3 separate regions of the Homo sapiens genome follow, and regions 2 and 3 are each linked to region 1. The links come from fine-mapping of genetic effects on gene expression. A gene starts in region 1. Each other region holds a variant in brackets. All regions are shown on one strand. Distances are between the middles of the regions. Region 1 holds the start of MEIS2 (Meis homeobox 2). Region 2 overlaps MEIS2 (Meis homeobox 2). Region 3 has its middle 190 kb from the start of LINC02853.

Evidence for each region. PIP is the estimated chance that this variant, and not a neighbour inherited with it, causes the effect.
Region 2: its variant is the best candidate, but not a certain one, in a credible set for the expression of MEIS2 in stomach (GTEx, PIP 0.88).
Region 3: its variant is the best candidate, but not a certain one, in a credible set for the expression of MEIS2 in stomach (GTEx, PIP 0.82).

The regions. Positions count from the first base shown.
Region 1 is chr15:37,097,984-37,102,223 of GRCh38, reverse strand. It overlaps MEIS2 (Meis homeobox 2), which reads left to right and starts at 1,675. Exons shown (of 12, transcript NM_170675.5): 1 at 1,675-2,769; 2 at 4,025-4,240. The coding sequence starts at 2,758. It overlaps LOC124903465 (a long non-coding RNA gene), which reads right to left and starts at 2,976. Exons shown (of 2, transcript XR_007064581.1): 1 at 2,795-2,976; 2 at 1-2,423. RefSeq lists silencers at 305-444, 2,894-2,953, 3,104-3,303 and enhancers at 1,145-1,424, 1,675-1,834.
Region 2 is chr15:36,893,930-36,898,169 of GRCh38, reverse strand. MEIS2 (Meis homeobox 2) reads left to right here. Exons shown (of 12, transcript NM_170675.5): 10 at 1,484-1,542; 11 at 2,909-3,019. Among named protein-coding and RNA genes, the nearest start is that of MIR8063, 77 kb to the left of the region's middle. RefSeq lists an enhancer at 1-367. The variant T/C (reference allele first, on the strand shown) is at 2,599.
Region 3 is chr15:36,230,315-36,234,554 of GRCh38, reverse strand. No RefSeq gene overlaps it. Among named protein-coding and RNA genes, the nearest start is that of LINC02853, 190 kb to the right of the region's middle. The variant TATC/C (reference allele first, on the strand shown) is at 2,309.

The DNA.
Region 1 (4,240 bases):
TGTTGCTCGAAAGCTTACAGTGAAGCAGGGAACATGGAACGGGGGCCAAAAAAAAGAGCCCTCCCACCCGCCCTCCTCCCCGCTCTCTCTCGCTCTCTCTCTCTCTCTCTCACACACAACACACACACAGAGTACTTTATTCTCTCTAATCAACCTCCCCCATCCCACCCTCCCTCCGCGGGAAAGTCGGTTAGACGCGGCTCGCGGAAGACACTACTCTCCACTTCTCAGAATGGGTTCAAAGTTGGGGAGGGATGCGGCTGTTGGAGAACAACAGTCCGCTTTCCACTCTCTGGGCCAGGGACTGGGAGGGCGAGAGCGAGAAGTTGGGGAGAGGACGCGCTTCCAGCGCCTGTCCGCCCGGCCGCGCCACAAGGGGCCGAGGGGCATGGGGGCTGCTGGGCGGCAAGGCTTGCGCGGGGTGACCGTGGCTCCGCCCCCAACTCCGGGCTCGTAGTGATTGACGCGCGGCCGCCGGGAAACCAGCCGCGCAGAGGTGAAGCCTGGTGCAGCTCGGGCCAGGGAGGACAGGGCACCGGCCACAACTAGTTTCCACCCAAACGGTGTGGGGTAGTTCCCTTCGTTTCCTTTTCCTTTTTGGAAAAGTTCTTTCGGAGCTGGCCCCATCTCCCTGACCCCGCGAAATCGCCCCTGTGTAATTAACACAGCCATTAGCAGGCGTTACCGCGGCCCGCCGCTGCGCCTCGGGCGACCACAACAAAGCTGGGCTGTGAGCGCCGGCCACTCCTCCTCGCCCGGCAACTTCTTTCTCCCCCACTCTCTCCGTCTTTTCCTCCTGTGCTTCCCAGCTCTGAGTGAGATCCACTTTGGAGACGCACACTAGTCGCGCGCGCGCACGGGCGCGCGGGCGCGCGCGCGCACACACACACACACACACACACACACACACACACACACACGCCTTTGGCTACATCGGACCCAGATGACTGCCTCCTCACTTCCTCCCTCCCGATTCCGCCGCGGCCCCCAAAGACTCTCGGGGTGGCCCCTTGTCCGCACCGCTTGGAGGGAGTGTGCTCTGAGTTAAGCTGGTCTCTTCTGGTCCTGGAAAAAAATGAGTATTGACAAGGTTGCTGGATCTGCGCAGAAAAGAAAGTGCCACTTAATAAAAAATTTAGCCCGGCAGTGGTACCGTCTGCAGAGCTTGCTGCCCTTGGACGTTAGCAGGAAGCCTTCGGGGTGCTGTAATCGGCGGGCAGAGGAGAGGGAGGCCGCGGAATTAAAAGGAACAAAAGCTAGAGCGCCATGCCAAACGTCCCCGGCAAGACCCAGTTAGGCAGGAGCCGGGAGTGATGGGAAAATGAACTAGAAGTAAGTTTTTTTTTTTTTTTAAATGAAAAGATCTGAGGCGGTACCGTACTTTCCCTGTGGTTTTCTGCAGTTTTCCTCTCTGCGCTCTCCCTGTCCTCTTCTCTCTCCCCCTCTCCCTCTCTCCCTGTTCGCGCGCGCGCGCGCGCAACACACACGCGCGCACGCACACACATACACACACACTCACACACACAGACACACTCTCCTTTTCCTCCCCCCCGCCGTCCCCCATCCCCGTGGAGGAGCAGGCTTGCTGATTTGCTCGGGTCCGCCCGGCTCGAGCCTCCCCTCCCCCTCCCGCCCCCCCGCCTCCCCCACCCCCCCAGCCGGGGCTGTCCGATCGCACTCGTTGCATATCAGAGGCTCGGCGCGGCGCGCTCCTCCTCGCTCCCGCTCCCCACTCCCGGGATGTGTCTCCGCCGTACGACGGGCTATGGCCACCACGACTTCCGGGTTCCGTCATTTCGTTCTCCCGCCGCCGACCCGCGCCGCCAAACTGAGGCTCTTCAATAAGCCAGGCAGCAGCCAACCTGCCAACACCTACTGACACTCACTCATCTCCCAGAGAGAGAAAGAGAGCGAGAGAGAGCGAGCGCGAGAGAGCGAGCGCGAGTGAGAGCGAGCGAGCGAGCGAGAAAGAGAGAGAGGGAGAGACAAAATACCTACCAGGAAAGGGGGGGAGGAAGTCCAATTTTTGCAAACTATTCATTTTTTTTTCTTGATTTTTCTCACTGCTTTCTTTGAACAATACTTTAAAGAGAGAGGATCGTATTATAGATACCGCGGGGGCAAAGCTAAAAAAGGGGGGAGGGGGGAGGAAAAAATTCAAGAAGCAGAAACCCCTCGCGGAGTTTTACTGGAAGAAAAAAACGGGTCTGAAAGATTCCTCCTCTTCATCATCATCAACCATCATTCATTCACTACCTTGACATTCCGGGCTTTGATTGACAGCTGGAGTGGCAAAAAGCCATGAAACACGACAGTTCGGTTACATGTGGGCTGCTGACGGGCCGCTCGTAACCTTCAGTTCGGGGGCTTGACAATTTTTTTCTTCTTTTTCTTCTTTTTCTTTTCTTTCTTTTTTTTTCCAACTGAGGGGAAGAGAAGAGAAAGAGGGGGAAAGGAGGACCGAAGAGGAGGAGGAGGGGAGGGGGGAGGAGGAGGAGGTGGAGGAGGAGGAGGAAGATCAGGAGGAGGAGGAAGAAGAGGAAAAAAGAGAAAAAGAAGAAATATCACAGAAAAAAAAATTCTTCGTTGTCTAGACTGGGCTTTTTTTCCCCCCTAAAAAATAGCATATTGGAGAATTGGGAGAAGTCTCTTTGGTTTGGAAAAAAAAAAAAGGAATCTTCAGCCTAGATCACTTTCTTATCCGGACTGGGATATTAAATATACGACACATCCAGGAGTTTATTGGAGCGCAGACTGATGGCGCAAAGGGTAGGTTTAAATCTCCAACACTTACCTAGATATAAATCCTCTCCTAAGAGGGGCCTGTCCCGATGCCTCCTCTCCCTTCAACGCTTCTGCTGCTGCTCGCTGCTTGATGATGGCGGCCAGTATTTTAAAAAATAGCAAAATTATTCATCGGCTTCTTTCCCTCCCGTGCCTCTGCGTGTGTGCGAGTGTGTGTGCGTGCGTGTGTGCGTGTCTGGGCGCGCGTGTTCCAGCGCTGTGCGAGCGGGCGGGCGGCGAGTGCGTGTGAGTGGTGTGTGTGTGTGCGTGTGCAATCGTTACACGCTTTCGCCTCGCTCCAGCTTTTACCCCAGCAGCGCGATTCCCCCGGTTCTCCTGCTGCCGCTGCTGCGCCGCTGCCGCCGTGGCTCGCGCGGCTCGGGGCGGGCACGGGCTGCGTAGGAGCCGCCGCCGGGGCCGCCGCTGGGGCCGCGCTGCCGCAGCCGCTGCGCCGCCGCCTAGACTACTAGCCTGGGCTGCTTGTTTTGTCTCTGAAATTGACAAGGACGCAGGGAATCCGCTGCTAAATAATGTTTCTGGTAACTTTCACGTTATTCGCCCCCCCACCCTCCGCTCCCTGCCCCCGGGGAGGCACTGGCCCTAGTCTTTCCTAGTCCTCGGCGTTCTCGTGCTGATTATTAGCGTTTTTCTTCTCTTTATTTTGTTTCATTTCGCCTTTTGATTTATTGGATCCTCAGAGGAGGCGAAGGGGGGTTAGGGGTGGGATCCGGGGCTTCCTCCTCACACTAACTCCACTTCTCCCTCCGTTGGCTCGCTACGGTTCTGTTGCCTCCGGCGGGAGCGGGGCCTCCCGGCGCCCCCTCAAATCCCCGGCCTCGCCGCCTCCTCTTCCTTCTCTAAACGTTGCTCTTGGTTCATGCTTTTTCATTTTTAAATTTAATAACATTTTTTCCTCACAACTTTTAACTCCGTTGTTTTGGCTGGTTTGGTTTCTGTGTGCTCAACTTGTGCTCGGTACTTTTCTCCTTTCTGACTTTGTTTTTATTTTTATTTTCTCTCTCTCTCTCTCTCTCTCTCTCTCTCTCTCTCTCTCTCTCTCCCCCTCTCCTCCTTTTCCTCCTCCTCCTCTCTTCTCTCTTACCTCCCTCCCTCTCTCTCATCTTTATCCCTTCCTCTCTTTTCTGTTCGCCCTCTTCTCCCTGCTCTTTTTCCCTTTCCACCCCCCTCCTCTGTTCTCCCTCACCTCCTGCGCCCCCTCCCCCTTCCCGGGTTCTGACAGTACGATGAGCTGCCCCATTACGGCGGGATGGACGGAGTAGGGGTTCCCGCTTCCATGTACGGAGACCCTCACGCGCCGCGGCCGATCCCCCCGGTTCACCACCTGAACCACGGGCCGCCGCTCCACGCCACACAGCACTACGGCGCGCACGCCCCGCACCCCAATGTCATGCCGGCCAGTATGGGATCCGCTGTCAACGACGCCTTGAAGCGGGAC
Region 2 (4,240 bases), 200 kb after region 1:
CAGTTTCAACTCTCCTTTTGTTTTCACCTCTACATAGCTGATCACTTTCTTTTTTGACAACTGAGCTACACTTTCTTAAGTAATAAAGAAGTCCATTGTTTTGCAAACAAACACCATATGCAAAAGACTCCTTTGGTTTTCTCCCAGCTATTATTCCTCAGCTTAATTGTATTCCCACCAGAGTGCTCACAGGAGGCCCGACCGAGTGGGGCCTGACTGTCCTCCTCCAAAGGGACTTCAGCTTCCTCGGAACACAGAGCTGCCAGCACACACTGAATTTTTCTGGCTAATTTCAAAGAGTGAGTTTTCAGTTCCTGCCTGTGGCCCCAGGTGGACTCATTAATCATGAAGTCCCCCTGTGCTTAAGATCTGAAACTGGAAATATTGACAGATGTTATCAATGGGTATATTTTTAGGGAGAAGCTAGCTGGATGCTCCCTGCTCCTCCGAAATGCGTGGTCAGTGAATCGTGTGCATGAGCTCAAATGTGTGGGGAATACACGTCGTTAAGTGCACAGGGACAAGGGTAACTCACAAATGGTAGAAAATTGTTTTGTTTTTATTAAATTTGGAGAAATAAAGGAGATTTCTTATCATCTTACTCTGTTTGTACATGAATATTTGATGGGCATTATTAAACATTAAAGTAACATGAAGTAGGCACTTATTTTTGGATTTCCAACAAAATTAGATCCAGGCTTCTTAGATGAAATAACTGCTTCTCCTTTGCATTCCTGCGATTCAGCCACCACCTGATTTGCAAACGTTTCTTGAGCTCTAATATCAAACATGTGTACCTGAGGCTCTGTCTTTCTAGTGGGTTGAAAGGTGGCTGGGTTTATGGTTGGCAGTTACCTTATCCTCTGCCCTGGGTGTCCCAGCTTAGGCTGGAAAGGCTGCCCCCAGCTGGCACTGACCTCTGAATGACCCCTAACTTTACAGGCTTAAACTGCAGGAGTTGCCGAAGAGCAGAAGTCTTTCTGGCCAGCACTTATTACTGCTGTGTTGGTGATAAAACTTCAGACAGCCTAATTGATGGCTTTGCTGACCTAACAATACCTTGTGAAAGCCGAGTGCTAGAGCCTGGTCTCCATTTATGACCAGCTGCAAGGGGAAGCTGGGTCTCCCTATCACGGGGAGTCTAGGGAAAGGGGGAAAGTCTTCCAGCCTGTGAACTTTAACCAGATTCCTACTTGTGCAAGAAGCAGAAGCACAATTTGAAGTTAATAGAAGCTTTCTCATGGAGAACTTTATTCCGTCCCTGAGCTCTTCTAGCAAGTTGTTTTGGAGTTGACTACGCAGTGACGACGGAGATTACCCAGTCAACTATTTTTGAACGCTGAAAGGGAAAATCACCTTTAAATTGAAAAGATAATTTTCAGAAGAGATTTGACTGTATTTTGTGCTCCTCAGCATTCATGCAAAGGTGTTCGCAGAGTACAGAAACGGAGTATGATGACTGGACTTCTCTGTTCTCTTTCAGGTTTATTAATGCCAGAAGAAGAATAGTACAGCCCATGATTGACCAGTCAAATCGAGCAGGCAAGTTCCAAGTAGTATCTATATTTATGTCCCACAGGCACAAATCCTCATCAAGTTATACTCCAGTAGTTTCCTCATCTGATAAATAAGTGCTTCCACCAGGCATTCTGGATTTTTTTTTTTAATGTCCCCAGAATCCCACTCAAGGAAGCAACTTCAGTAAGTGGTGCTAATTGGAGATTTCCCACCCTGACTCTACTGACACTGCTTTTTATTTTCTTTCTGAATTGGTAATTGGGCACAGGTATTAATGCCACAAGCAGCGTGTTTGTGAGCTCTGGCATTACCCCTTGCTTGTCTGCATCCAATCATTAGCACACTCTCATTTTTCTGTTACCCACAGCTCCTTGGTGTATGCTAGGCTTTCCTTTCTGTAGCATCTGCTGTTAAACTTATTGTATCCATTCATTTGCTTTGGCTATTCATAATATCCTATTAAAGCCTGACTTGCTGCATTGCCACCATTATTTTTTATTAAAGAATATTACCTTTGTATAAAATGCTTCACATCCATGCTGCTAAAATACATGTGAGCTTTTCTCAGAATTCTCTCAATTTCTCTAAAACAGTTTTTGTATGGTACTATCAGAACCCTCCTGGTATACTCCAAGTCGTTTTATTTTGAAACAGACATTTCCTCAGTTTACTGAGGGTTTGTGGTCTCCTGCAATAAGGCTTATAGGGAAAAACAGTTTTCCTTGGGGTGATGACTGCTGCCACTAACAACGGTGTTAAACTTGATGGAGATTTTACCTGTGGCCTCGCTTTAAAGGATTTGTGAAAATTAGTCATCCTTTGGCAAAATTTCCCCAATAACGCCAAAATATGTTCCCACTATTGGAGGCTAGGGAGAAGAACATAAAACAATGGAAATATTATATTTACTAAGTTTATATTTCCTTGGTGTGAATAAAAAGGCAAGCTTTTAATTGAGTCTATTTAACCTTGTGAAATTGTATTCAGGTTTAAAATGTTTGTGTAAAATATGAACATTTTGTATTAAGCCACCAGAGATGGCAGCCTCAGAGAATCCCAACCAAATGGTACATTGCAATA[T/C]TTGTATATGGGGTACCCCTAACTTCTCCAGCCTTCGTCCCCCTAATCAAGAGATAAGTAAAAAAGCAAGGGCTGCAGAGGACGAACCCCCTGGGAAACTGGCCAGTGAAGTCTTTCTTCCAGAACATTTTTAAAGCTACTCACACACCTTCACTCAGTCATCAAGACACTCAGACAAACCACACCCCCATTTGTAGAGTGCCAACCACATTGTTGCTATAACGTTTCAGTGCTGCAGCGGGAACAATTGCTGATTGTTTGGTATATCTTTTCTTCTTTCTCCTCTGTGTCCTCGAATGACCACAATCAGGTTTTCTTCTTGATCCTTCAGTGAGCCAAGGAGCAGCATATAGTCCAGAGGGTCAGCCCATGGGGAGCTTTGTGTTGGATGGTCAGCAACACATGGGGATCCGGCCTGCAGGTAGGTTGGCTCATCCCGCCTCTGGGCTTCCCTGGGAAGTGCCACCTGCTCCACCAGCCTCTCCATCCACTCTACTATCCCACTGTCATGGTGGGTTTAACATTTGCCTGCTGCCTGCTCTGCCTGCTTTCTTTACATTGGGTGGGGGAAAAAATTCCTCTTTGAAAAAGTAAAGATTTTACCACAGTACCATTATACTCTGCCCCATACACATCCTTTTTCTTTTTTCTTTTTAAACCAAGGCAATAAGTGAAAAGGAATCTGAGTTTCCTTCTATTTTTTCACCATCAATTATTGCTGATTTTCCGGCCTCTTCTTGGATTTTATCTCCTTTCTAGGACCTATGAGTGGAATGGGCATGAATATGGGCATGGATGGGCAATGGCACTACATGTAACCTTCATCATGTAAAGCAATCGCAAAGCAAGGGGGAAGTAAGTACAGTCGGGTGCGATCTGTCTTCACTATCACTTCAGAGACTTTATTTTATTTTTTATAATTTGCCCCCATTTTATTTTTCCTTGCCCATAACTGCATGCCTTTCCAAACTAAGGACCTGTTTTTAAATATATATCACCCATCTCTGAAGTCACAGATGACACTGATGTGCACTTTTGAAAAGGCCAACTGACAAGCCTGCGTGTGTTTTAAGCAGGTGGGACTGCCTTTTAGCCTATTTACTGTGGCCCCAATGTGCACAAACACAGACATCAGGCAGATATTGGACATTTAAGAATAAAAATAATGTCTTGGGGGCACCAGTTGACTGAGAGAAATTAAGCAGGCTTCAATGAAGCGATAAAAAAAAAAAGGAAAAGTAGAACTGTCCTTTGAGTGACATAAATCTGTCAGAATACGATTGATGCCCAAATTATCTTATATGCAAAGATGAAATGCTGCAGTTCATTATGCCTAGTCTAGATATATGACAGCAGTGACACCATTGATTCTTCACTAGGGAGTCGGTGTGTTTTGATTATTTTTTACATGTGCCTACTGACTTCCGACATGAGACAGAAAGACAGGAAAGTCAGTCAATAAATTTAAAGGGAAAGACATTTAGGAGCAACTGAATATGAAGGAATGGATTTTTCACTGAGGCTGAATGGCTGCAGTTGGATTAAGAAACCCATTAGACTTTAAAGCTTCAAGTGTTTTTGACATCTGAAAAAAATTCAGAGTCTGCCAACAAGATATATCCTTTGCTGAAGACACCAGAGC
Region 3 (4,240 bases), 870 kb after region 1:
TCTGTTTAGAGCTTTTGCCCATTTAAAAATAGGATTGTTTGTTTTCTTATTATTGAGTTTTAAGAGTTCTTTGCATATTTTAGATATTGTATCTAAAACACACCAGATATGTGTTTTGCAATGTTTTTCTTCAGTCTTTGGCTTTTATTTGTATTCTTTTAACAATATCTTTCACACAGCAGAGGTATCTAATTTTAATAAAGTCCAACTGACCATTTTTCCTTTCATGAATCATACTTTTGGTGTTGTATCTAAAAATTCATCACCAAACCCAAGGTCACCTAGATTTTCCCCTATGTTTTCTTTTAGAATTTGTATATTTTGTGTTTTACATTTAGGTTTATAATGTATTTCACATTAATTTTTGCAAAAGATGTAAAATCTATGTCTAAATTCATTTTATTTTTGCACATAAACCTCCAGTTTTCTAGCACCATTTCTTGTAAAGACTATCCTTTCTCCATTGAACTGCCTTTGCTCTTTTGTCGATGATCAGTTGACTAAATTTGTGTGGGCCTGTTTACAGGCTTCCTATTCTGTTCCATTGAGTCTATTCTTTCATCAGTACCACACTCTGTGGATTACTGTAGCTTTATAGTAAATCTTGAAGTTTTGGGATGTCAGTCCTCCAACTTTGTTAGTATTGTGTTGGCTATTCTCAGTCTTTTGCCTTTCCATATAAACTTTAGAATTGGCTTGTTGATAGCCACAAAGCACCTTGCTGGGATTTTGTTTAGGATTGCATTAAATCTATGAATAAAGTTGGGAAGAACCAATGTCTTAACAACCTAAGATTATCCCAGTCTCTGAACATGGAATATCTCTCCATGTATTTAGGTATTCTTTGATTTCTTTCTTCAGCATTTTGAAGTAGTCTGAATGCAGAGCCGTATTTTATTAGATTTATACCTGAATACTTTAATTTTTGGTGCTGTTGTAAATGGTAATTTTAAAAATTAAAATTTTAATTATTTATTGCTGTTACATAGGACAGTAATCGACTTTTGTATGTTGTGCAAGTCTGCTATAATTGTTATTCTTGTTCCTCTAGGTAAGGTGTTTCTTTTCTCTGATCCTCAACTTTTTTCATGATTTTCTCTTTGTCTTTGGCTTTCTGAAATTAGAATATTACATGGCCAGGTGTGTGAGTGTGTGTGCACTTATGTGTGCATGCATATGTGTGTGTGTATTGGGTATATTTCCTGTTTGGTGTTGTCTGAACTTCCTGGATCTATGGTTTCTGTCTGTCATTGATTGATTTTGAAAAGTTCTAAGCCACTATTACTTCAAATATTTATTCTGCTCCATGCTCTTTCATTTCATATATTCCAATTATGCATATTATAACTTATTAAGTTGTTCCACAATTCTTGGATGTATGTACACTATTTTTAATTATTTTTTCTCTTTGAATTTCAGTTTGGGAAATATCTACTTACTTTTAAGTTCGCTAATTCTTTTCTAAGCTGTCAATTTTATTGATGAACTCATCGAAAGCTTTCTTTATTTCTATTATAGTGTTTTTTGTTTCTAGAATTTCCTTTCAATTATTTCTTAAAGTTTCCTTATTTCTTCTTACTTTACTTATCTGTTCTTGCATATTGTCTACAGTTTCCATTAGAGCCCTTAATATATTAATTGTTGTATTTTAAATTCCTTCTCTGATTATCCTAATATCAGTATCATGTCTGAGTCTGACTCTGGTGCTTGCCTTTTCTCTTCAGACTGTGTTTTCTCTTACCTTTTAACAGACTTTGCAAATTTTTATTGGAAGCCAGGCACGTGGACTCAGGTAATGGGGACTAATGTAAATAGCCCTTGTAGGAGTTATGTTAATGTGACTAGGACTTGTGTTGTGTTAATGTTTGCTGTAGCTGTAGGTGCTAGAGGCTTCAAATTCTCCTGGTATCCTTGTTTATCTCTTCCCTCTTAGGGCTTCCCTAAGTATTCCTCTTCAGAGATAGTGTGTGTCTGGCAGTTTGCTCAGCTGTAAACCACTGTTATTTTACTGAAGCCCTATTGTGGTTGTGAATTGTGGGGGAGAGGGAGCATCCTATTCCAATTAACACTCAGTCTTTTTGTTGGCTTGTGTCTTAAGGCTGACCTTCACAATCTTTTTTTAATTCTATTTTATTTTTTTTTTTTGATGGTACAACTTTTACCCCCTGCCTCCTACTTCTTTCTTGGTGGCAGTATTTCCTTTTTATATCCTTCAGATACATGACCACAGTTGAGTAGTTTTCTGCCTCCTGCTGAGGTGAGATAGAAATTTGAAGAGAGAGAAAGTAGCAGTAAAAATTATTATTAT[TATC/C]AACTAACTAATCTTCTCTCTTCAAGTTTCCCAATGGTTGAAATGAACCATGAGAAAATGCCTGAAAACCACTGATGGTGGAATGGTTCCCTGGGCCAGGTTTGTGGTGATCTTGAATCTTCTGAAGTCATCTCAGGATGTCATGTTTGAAGATGGCCTTTGACAGCTGCTTTTGATGAGCATCCCGCTTCACTCACTTGTGCCACAAGCATGTACCTCACAACTGTGCTTTTAATAATATAACTGTGCTTTTAATATAACACATGGTTTAATTAGAGACTTAAATCCAGGAAACCTCTCAAGTGACTACATTGTATTAGGTGTGTTCTTATATATTATCCCATTTACTTATCATTAAAAGCTTAATTGAGTAGGCATCATTATTTCCATTTTTTACAAATAACAAAACTGAGGTTTAGGGCGATTAACTACAAACTGTCTACAAATTCTTTCCTTCTAGCTGAGAGAATGCTCCAGCAAAGTCTTTTCCTCTGGAATACAGGTCTTGGTTATAACAAAGCTGTGGGCATATTTCACGATGATTACTCTTCTCTTTCTGCCAGATTCAGGAGGGCATCTTTCTCAGATCTTTACCATAAAAACCTTTTAGACTCCCTGGAGATAAAGCTGACAAAAACATGGGAGCACCCTTAAACCTGTGGCTCCCAGAATTTTCTCACTCTTACAGTAGCCTCAAACTAAGCCTCTATTCCTAGGTTAAAATTACCATTTAACTGTTTCTACCAGTTAATGACACGAGCAGCTTCTGTTCTGGGTAAGCAGATCTCAGCTGCGATTGCCTGGATATGCCTCCAGATTCTGTTGCAGCTGTTTACATGGAGACCTAAGTTCTCTGATAGATATGAGAAATAATTCATTTTCATTTGTCCAGCTCTTTTTTGTTTTAAGGACAGAATTAAGACTGCCATGCTATTTCTATGTCAGAACTGAAACTGTAAGTTCGTCATTGAACTCTTGGATCCATTGAAATAATTCCTGATGATTATATAGTAAACTGTCGTGTCACTTGGTCAGTATAGAGTCCTCCCTTTCAACAGGCTTCTCTAACAACAGGACACTGAGCTCTGCCTCTCACATAAAGATTCCTCTGAAAGAGCAAAGGTGTTTTGGTTCTGCCAGCCAATCAAAAGACTGTCTACAAAATGTTCGACAGCAAAATTCCAAGAATGTTTCCTCCAGTTGAGTATGTACAATTAAATCAATCCACTCACAGTGCTGGCTGTTGTAAAATATCACTGAGTGATCTTTTAGATGATGTCACACCCCAACCTAAATAAACATAGTTGCTCCTCATTTTTTTAGGACACAGACCAAAACCCTTAGTCAGGCAAATGAGTTATTCCATGATCTGCTCCTGACTCCTGCTCCGGTCAATTCCACTGTTCCTTTTATTCAATAACCTGTATCCATACTGGCCTCCTTAAGTCCTTAAACATCTTTTCCCATTTCATAACCTTCACATGTGCAGTTGCCTATGACTATAACATTCCTCCTTTCCCTGGGTAACTTTAGTTCATACTTAAACTTGCAGCTTACTAGTTTTTCAGGGAAGGCTTCTTGGGTCTTCAGATCAAGATTAAGTCTCCTTCATTGCAAGCGTTCACAGAACACTACATATTTTTTGGCAAGTATCACAACTGTCATTAATTATTTACATTATCATGTAATTCTTTGTTTAATATCTATCTTTTCAATGGACTATAAACTCCAGGAGGTTAGGGACTGCCTGTCTTGTTCACTGTTGTACCCCTTGTACCAGCAGAGTTCCAAGACAATATTTTTGAATGGATAAATGATGAATAAATAAATTCAATCTTTAATTACATTTATGGAAAACTAAATCCTTGATTTAGAATTAGAAGCTACAGAAACATATAGAGGCAATAATGAAATGAACAAAGATTGCCA